2 linked regions of the Homo sapiens genome follow. The protein of the gene in region 1 binds, or shares a complex with, the protein of each later gene. Each region holds a gene or a part of one and is shown on either strand. Other genes may lie near its edges. The genes, in order: SDCBP and SDC4.

The links.
Region 2: the proteins of SDCBP (region 1) and SDC4 are in contact, whole or in part, in a crystal structure (PDB 8BLV), measured with the Homo sapiens proteins. Residues at the interface, in NP_001007068.1 of Homo sapiens: Gly207, His208, Val209, Gly210, Phe211, Ile212, Phe213, Lys214, Thr219, Val222, Asp251, Ser252, Ala255, Leu258; in NP_002990.2 of Homo sapiens: Thr193, Asn194, Glu195, Phe196, Tyr197, Ala198.

The regions. Positions count from the first base shown.
Region 1 is NC_000008.11:58,551,156-58,555,066, reverse strand, and holds the start of SDCBP (syntenin-1), read right to left. Parts: upstream 1,807-3,911; 5' UTR 1,764-1,806; intron 1-1,763. UniProt on the Homo sapiens protein: Multifunctional adapter protein involved in diverse array of functions including trafficking of transmembrane proteins, neuro and immunomodulation, exosome biogenesis, and tumorigenesis.
Region 2 is NC_000020.11:45,334,708-45,338,618, reverse strand, and holds part of SDC4 (syndecan-4 precursor), read left to right. Parts: intron 1-2,698; coding exon 2,699-2,837; intron 2,838-3,911. UniProt on the Homo sapiens protein: Cell surface proteoglycan which regulates exosome biogenesis in concert with SDCBP and PDCD6IP.

The sequences.
Region 1 (3,911 bases):
AAAATGTTAACGTTTGTGTTAAAAGCAAGGAGGCAAATACAGCTTATATGTTTGCCTGTGTAGATATAAAATTTGCCTAGAATACCTAAGAAATGTAAAAAAGTTGCCTGCCTGCCAGAAGACTTGTTACTTTATACCTTTTTATGCTGCTTAAATTTTGAGACAAGTGACTGTTTACCTACTCAAAAACAATACATTTACAAAACATGTTGGCAGCACTTGAAAAGAAATTAATAAATGCTAACGTAACTATTGCTAAAAGTAGAAAGTATTTCAAAGTTATTTGGGGGCGCTTTTCTTTTTTAGAATCTCTTGGCATTTAATACCTATAAAAAGTTCCCAAATCTGGCAAAAACAGGGAAAATAGTTGTCACGCTCATTTTAAGAAACTCTTTAATTAAACAGTACATTTAACCGGCAACCATTAGCAAATTCTTCCCCTTTTGTTCATCTTTTTCCCCTTTTTACATCTTTTCCTATAATGCCCAAAACTAAAAGTTAATGTCTCCAAAGTTAAATTTAATTTATAATGGAGTGACTATTTACTGACCATTTTAAAAGTCATTCTACTTCTTTTTATTCTGTGCCACAAACCACTAGATTTATAATATTTATGTACCATTTAAGGCACAAATTTTATAGAATTAAGTTGGTAACACAGAAGACAAAAGGACGTATTTTCTACCGTTATCCCTCAATCTTAAACAGGAAAATAAAAAGACTGAACAAATTTGAGTTTTAACTAATCACATACACATTTAGAAATCAATTTAATTTAAAAGGCCCGCAGTTGTTTTTCAAGGTAAATTTCCTGCTTTAATCAACGATTTCTTTTTGAAACAAGCGGATGTTAAGAGTTTGGTAAGCCGAGCGTACTTTCTAAGCAATGTACGTAATGGAAAAGATAACAGTAAATGTGTATGTGGTTATACAGACTAGATAATCTACAAACTCCTTTCAAAAATGGACACATTAGAAGACTCCATGACTCAATAATCACCACTTTGGTAAAAGTGAAAACTTTCCACATCCATATGCCTTCCCTTTCCCATTATTACAAGGAAATCCTGAAAGGAAGGCTCTGAGTCATCATATCTCAGGGGTCAGATCTCAGGGGTATTTCCTTCTAAACACACCCTACTGGAAACGTTTCTCCCTCAGGTCCAACTTCTCCAGGAAAAAGCTCAAAGCGAACAACCTCTCCCCACCCCCTTCCAAAAAAGTCAAGGCTTCGCCCAATAAACAAACACTTCCTTCCTCCTTTCAAATCCAGGACTTTCCGAATAACCCAAAAGAAGGGCGATTAAGCACAGCCCTAGAAACGCCGAGCACTGGGAGGAACCGTGGCCAGAGGCTCTTTCTTATGTCGAGATCTTATCGAGGAGAAAACAAGGATCGAGAGACGGTCCCAGGAAGAACCCCAGAGCTGGGGCGGGGGCTGAAGGCGTTCACCCAGCCGGGCCTCCGGGCTCTGCCAGCCCCAGCCCCAGCCCCAGCCCCAGCCCCAGCCCGGGCAGGAACCCGAAACGCGCGGGGTCGCGGCAGGAAGAGCGCGCTGCTCCCGCAAACTTGCCCCCCCAGCCAGCAGGGCGCAGGGAGGGGCGCGGAGCCCCCTGAGGAGAGGGCGTCGCCGCTGCCTCGCGAAAACGGCTGCGACCAGGATGCAGTCTGTGAAGTGGCCCAGGGACCGTCACACCTCTGCCCCAAGTCCCCGCGCCCGGGACCTGGCACCGGCGTCCCTCCTTGCCCCCTTGGCCTCTCACCTAGCCCACAAGGAACCGCTCGCCGCCGCCGCCTCCGGTCACTGGCACGGACTTCTGAGGCCCGAGTGTAAGAGAGCGGTGCGCGCCCGAGGACCGCCCCCGAGGCGCGTCATGGCACCGCCCCCGCCTTCAGCCCGCGCAGTCGCACGGCGCCGGGTCGGGTGATCCCGTCCCCAAGGTAACGGGGCGGTAGGGGTAAAGAGGCCTGGGTGTGGGTCGTTCCTGCAGCTCCAGGTATCCGGCAAAGTGGGGCGGTTCATGCCGCCCGCTGTCCGCTGCCCGCTGCCCAGCGGTTATGCTCCCAGTCTTCTCCGCTCTTCGGCTGTTCGTGCCCGCGGGCCCCGTGCCACCCACTCACTACTGTGTGCATCGCAGCTCACGGTCGCTTGGTTCTCGTCGCCTCCAATTCAAAGAGGTCTCGGGAGCCCCTGTTCCCTCTTGGGATGCCTTCGACTTCCACCACTTGCTGCCCTAGTCTCACTCTCCGCTTGCTGTACCTCTCCACTATAGGCTCAGAAACGTTCCTCTCACGACCCCTTCTCAACTCCTGCTTTATTTTTCTGTTGGAAATTTGGATGTTGGGGGTGGGGGGCGTATTACTCTGTCCGCCTAAGCTAATATTCCTTCGCTATTGAGAGTTAGGTGTGGTGCTGCGCAAAAGTAATTGCTTCCCAGTAAAAAAACATAACGATCATTTCTTGAGGGCTGATTTTGTGCCAGCCATAGCTCTACGAACTTAATGTATAGTCTTATTTGGTCTTCACATCAGTCTATAAAGACATCCCATTACAGACAAAGAAACTGAGGCACAGTTTACCCAAGAGTAATCATAGTTACCACGGAATACTGTAGAGTCCTTGACAAAATAGCATTTACAAGCAGTTTATTTCTAGCTAAATTAGTGCCAGAATAATTTAATATATGGCAAAACTAATAAAAATCTGAGTGTAAAAGAGGTGACAACTAAAGATGAAAACTTTGCTCTCAGTAAGGTTATAGTTAGGCTGATGAAATGGACATTTAAAAATAATTACAAGGTAGATTGGGAAGGAAGAAATAAAACTTTTTGCTTTCAGATGAGATGGTTATCTAACATAGAAAATCCGGAAAAAATTGACACTCCTCGCCTAAAAAAACAGAATGAAAAGCAATTATAGCAAGTTTGCATGAGCAAGTTTAAAACAGGCTCATTCTAAGCCAAAATGCTTGGGACCAGAAATGTTTCCAATTTTGGATTTTTTTTTTTTTTGCTTTTGTAATATTTGCATTATATACTTATGGGTTTACCATCCCTACTCCAAAACTCAAAATGTTCCAGTGAACATTTCCCTTGGTCCTCATGTCAGCACTCAAAAAGTTTCATATTTTAGAGTAGTTCATATTTTGGATTTCTGTACTAGGAATAGTCGACCTGCATACATGGTCTGTTGTTTTCTTATATACCATCAATAAACAATTGGTATTTGAAATTAAAAACAATAACCACTGACATTAGCACCAAAATAAAATGAAATATTTAGGTATAAATCTAACAAAATATGTAAAAGGTTTATACAAGAAAAACTACAAAATTCTAAATAAAAAAAACTTCCAATGAGAAAAACTACAAAGTTCAAAGGAGATCTAAATAAATTTAAAGATATTCCATTTTCATGGATAGGAGTACTTGATATTTAACTGTCAGTTCTGCCCAACTTAATCTATAGATTTGATACAATCAAATCAAATCAATCAAAATCCCAGCAAGTTATTTTGTGGATATTAACTGATTCTCAAGTTTATATGGAAAAATGAAAGACCAGAAGAGCCAAACCAATACCAAAGGAGAGGAACAAAGTCAGAGGCCTAACAGTACCTTAGTTCAGGCTGTTGTAACAAATTGCCATAGATTGGGTGGCTTAAACGACAGAAATTTATTTCTCACATCTCTGAAGTCTGAGAAGCCCAAAATCAAGTTGCTGGCACATCTGGAAATCTGGTGAGGGCTCACTTTTGAGTGTGCAGATGGCATTCTTCCCATTGTATCCCCACATGGCAGAAAACAAGACAGATAAAGCACATTCTCTTCTATCTATTCTTATTAGGGCATTCATTTCATTACGAGGGCTCAACTCTCATGAGCTAATTATCTCTCAAAAACCTTGGGTC
Region 2 (3,911 bases), on another chromosome or scaffold:
TCCTAACAGCCAGTGGGCATGCTAATCCCATGGGTTGTTTTGAAATACCTCTTAGCACTTTCACATACTGAAAGAGAGGCTGGATGCATAAACAACCTTCCATGGCTCCTGGGGGCAGTGAGGGGTGGGAAAAGGTCTCTCAGCCTGAGACAAGTCTCCTGATGGAACTACAGCCCCTGTTGAGGACTTTGACCTGGTCAACAGCTGGCCAAAGTGTACCATTCTTTCTTTCTCCCGGCTAGATTGACCCCCCTACTTAACAGGGCTCCCTTGGAGCCTGGGGCAGGCTGGTGACCCCGTGTACATATGTGTTCATGCGTGTGTTTATGTGTTTGTGGTTAAATGTCCAGGTCAGTGAAGCCTGGGTTCTGGCCCAGTGTGGCTACTTCCTGCTTGTGTGGCCTTGGACAAGTGACTTTACTTTTCTGAGCCCTTGTTTCCATCTCTGCAAAAAGGGACTATTAAAAGGACCTAGACAGGCTGTGTGCTTGGTTAAGGCCTGTCACTTGGGTTCTTGGGGGATTTGCCACAGGAGATGGAGGTAGGAGCACAGGGACCCTGCCCTTAGGTATAGGCACTTGGGCAGCCATGAGGAGCCTTCCTCCTGCTCTGCCAAACCAAAGCCACAGGCACGGGCTATGTGCGGGGGCTTGAATTCCAGCACCAGCAGCCCGGCAGCTCCTGATTCCCGAGTCATGAAGTCATCTCTGAGCAGCACTTAACCTCTCTGGCTTTCCACCCCCACGGGTGCCAAGCGTTCAGCATTCTCCCCACTCCCCGGGAGAGAGTGATTCCTGGCCACTGCCTTCCTTGTGGCCTGACCCCGCTCCCTTCCGGGAATCCAGCATTCTCCCTCTGTGGGGGTGGAAGAGGGTGCATGAGGGTCAGGTTCCACCTGCCTCTCCCCAGAAGCCCAGTGGGGAGAGTACAGGAGTGGCTCTGAAGCAGCTTTCCTGGGCCTCTCCTGCAATGATAATAACCTTATCTTAGGGACAGATGTTCCTTCTCAGACACCCTCCTTTGTCAATGGCAGTCTCAGCTGAGTGAAGGACTGCCTGGGGTGTCCGAAACAGAGACCTGACCTCTTTCTATCCTGAGTTATGTAGCGAACGCTCTGTGTGACCTTGGGCAAGTCCCTGCCCTGTTCCGGGCTCAGATTCAAGTTGTGTGAAACGGGAGGACAGGAGCTCCTTGGGTCCTGGCATTCTGTGATTCTAAGCAGACCCCCAGCTCCTGCAGTTATGGCGTCTGGAGAAGATGGGAATGTCTTTCAGCGGGAGGGGCATGGTGTATTGAACTTAATGAAAAACCCCAACTCTCCTGGCAAATACTAGGCACTTTAGTGTTTGAATTAATTAGTAGAATAATGAACTTTGCTCAGAGCTGCTGTTCTCTGGGCAAACAGAAGCCTGAGCCCAGAAGCTGGAGGAAGGGTGATGGGCATCCAAATGTTTCCTGTGCTCTTGAGGGTACATTGTTCCCACTCGGTGGAGCTACAGGATGGGAGCAGGGTAACTGATGTACTGTAGGGCTGCCCGGGACCTTTGACACTTTCTTTTGGCAAGCGGTTTGGTGGGAGTGGACCTGAGACTCTGTCCTGATCAGCTGTGTCTCCACAGGGTAGTGGCTGAGTGATGATTATGGGTACTGGAGTGGATGGTCTGTGAGGGTAGGGATTGTGCCTCTCGGTGTCTGCATGGTGCTGGCAGCAGAGTAGATCTGTGGGAGATGTTTGGAAGGCAAGACTGAATCCAGGAGTACACTCCTGAGTCATCAGGTCTGGGCAGCGCCCTGACCTGAGGCTGTCTTAGGGTGTGCGTGAGGCAGCCCTGTCTGTCCCGGCCCAGACTGACTCAGCTGGGAAAAGTATCCTGGACTGGGCAAGACCAGAACCAGGAGCCCACTCCCTGTCCTGTGTGAATCAGCTGCCACTGCATCACAGAGCCCTGGAGTGTAGCATCCCAGGGCCCTGTGCATGGAGACTCCTGGCTCTGAAGTCAGGCAGCCCTGCGTATGCAATCCTCGCTCTTCCATCTGCCAGCTGTGTCACCAAAAGAAAATGACTCCCTCGGCTGTAAAAAGAAGTGAATAACATGCCTCCAGAGTTATTAAAACAGGGCCCAGCACATAGCAAGTGCTCGGTAAAGGATATCTAGCCATATTAATAATTTGATTATTACCTCATTTACTGTTTTTATTTTTTTTGAGACGGGGGTCCCACTCTGTAGCTCAGGCTAGAGTGCAACGGCGTGATCCTGGCTTATTGCAACCTCCGCCTCCCGGGTTCAAGCAATTCTCCTGTCTCAGCCTCCCGAGTAGCTGGGACTACAGGCGTAAGCCACCACGCCCAGCTGATTTTTGTATTTTTAGTAGAGACGGGGTTTCACCATGTTGGCCAGGCTGGTCTTGAACTCCTGACCTCAAGTGATCTGCCTGCCTCCGCCTCCCAAAGTGTTGGGATTACAGGTGTGAGCCACTGTGCCCAGCCTCATGTACTATTTTTATTTGCCCAGAATGGAAAGAGACTTGCCTAAGGACACGCGGTGAGTTAGAGGTAGAGTGGGATCCAGGACGCAGGTCTCCAGGCCCTGGCCTGGTCTCTTTCTAGTTTCTGAATGCCCACTTCACTAGCTTTTGGGCATCAGCTGTCATGGAGCACTGGGGATGTTGGCTGATGTGTCTCCTTTCTTTATCTTAGATCCGAGAGACTGAGGTCATCGACCCCCAGGACCTCCTAGAAGGCCGATACTTCTCCGGAGCCCTACCAGACGATGAGGATGTAGTGGGGCCCGGGCAGGAATCTGATGACTTTGAGCTGTCTGGCTCTGGAGATCTGGGTACGGAAGGTGTGCTGGGCAGGCGTAGGCACAAAGCTGGAGGGAGTGGTGGCTTCACCAGCCAGGAGGGTGACCATGCCTTGAGACTTGGATTTTTGTGGGACTTTTCCTAGAGTGCCCTTCTTCCTTCTCAAAAAAAGGGGAAACAAAAGTAATGGATTAACCTATTCCATCCCTGAGAGCCCCTGGGGACAAGCTGTTTGCTGCTTTGAAGTCATTGGTAGCTCTGGGTTTTCTGAGCTCCAGCCTGAACGTGTCCTCATAAGCTCTTCTCTTTTCTGCAGGGCATGGTGGGGGTGGGGTGAGGGTAGGATGGGTGGCAGGACAGGGTGGGAGTGGGGAAGGAGGACCCATAGAGTGTTTTCCTTTTTTTGAAAGGAAAAGTTCCAGCCTGGGCCACATGGTGAGAACTTGTCTCTACAAAAACACAAAAATTAGCTGGATGTGGTGGCATGCACCTGTAGGAGTCCCAGCTACTTGGGAGGCTGAGGTGGGACGATCCCTTGAGCCTAGGAGGTTGGGGCTGCAGTGAGCCAAGATCATGCTACTGCACTCCAGCCTGGGTGACAGAGTGAGACCCTGTCTCAAAACAAAAAAGGAAAAGTAGCAGCTTAGAAGTGGGGATGGGGTGGGAGGGGGCATGAGTGGGCAGAGATGTAGTTGGGAAACCAAGAACAAGTCCCTGCTTCAGTGGGGGTGGGGGCGGGTGAAGGGCCCAAGGCCTCTAGGCCAGACAGCTAATAAGTGTCCCTCCTATGTGCAGAGAGGTGTTAATGATTGCAAGTTTTAGCTTTGCAAGTTTTAGCTTTGGAGTCACATGGTCCTGAGTTCAAGCCTCCATCCTGTGTGAACTGAGCTTCAGTTTTCTAATCTGTAAAATGGGAATAATAAAGATAGTACATCAGTGTTGTGGGGACTGAACTGACTTAAAGCTTTTGGCACCTACCAAGCACTCAGTACGTGTGTGTTTGGTTTAAAAAAAAAATAAATTTTATGGCCGGGCACGGTGGCTCATGCCTGTAATCCCAGCACTTTGGGAGGCCAAGGCAGGCAGATCACGAGGTCAGGAGTTTG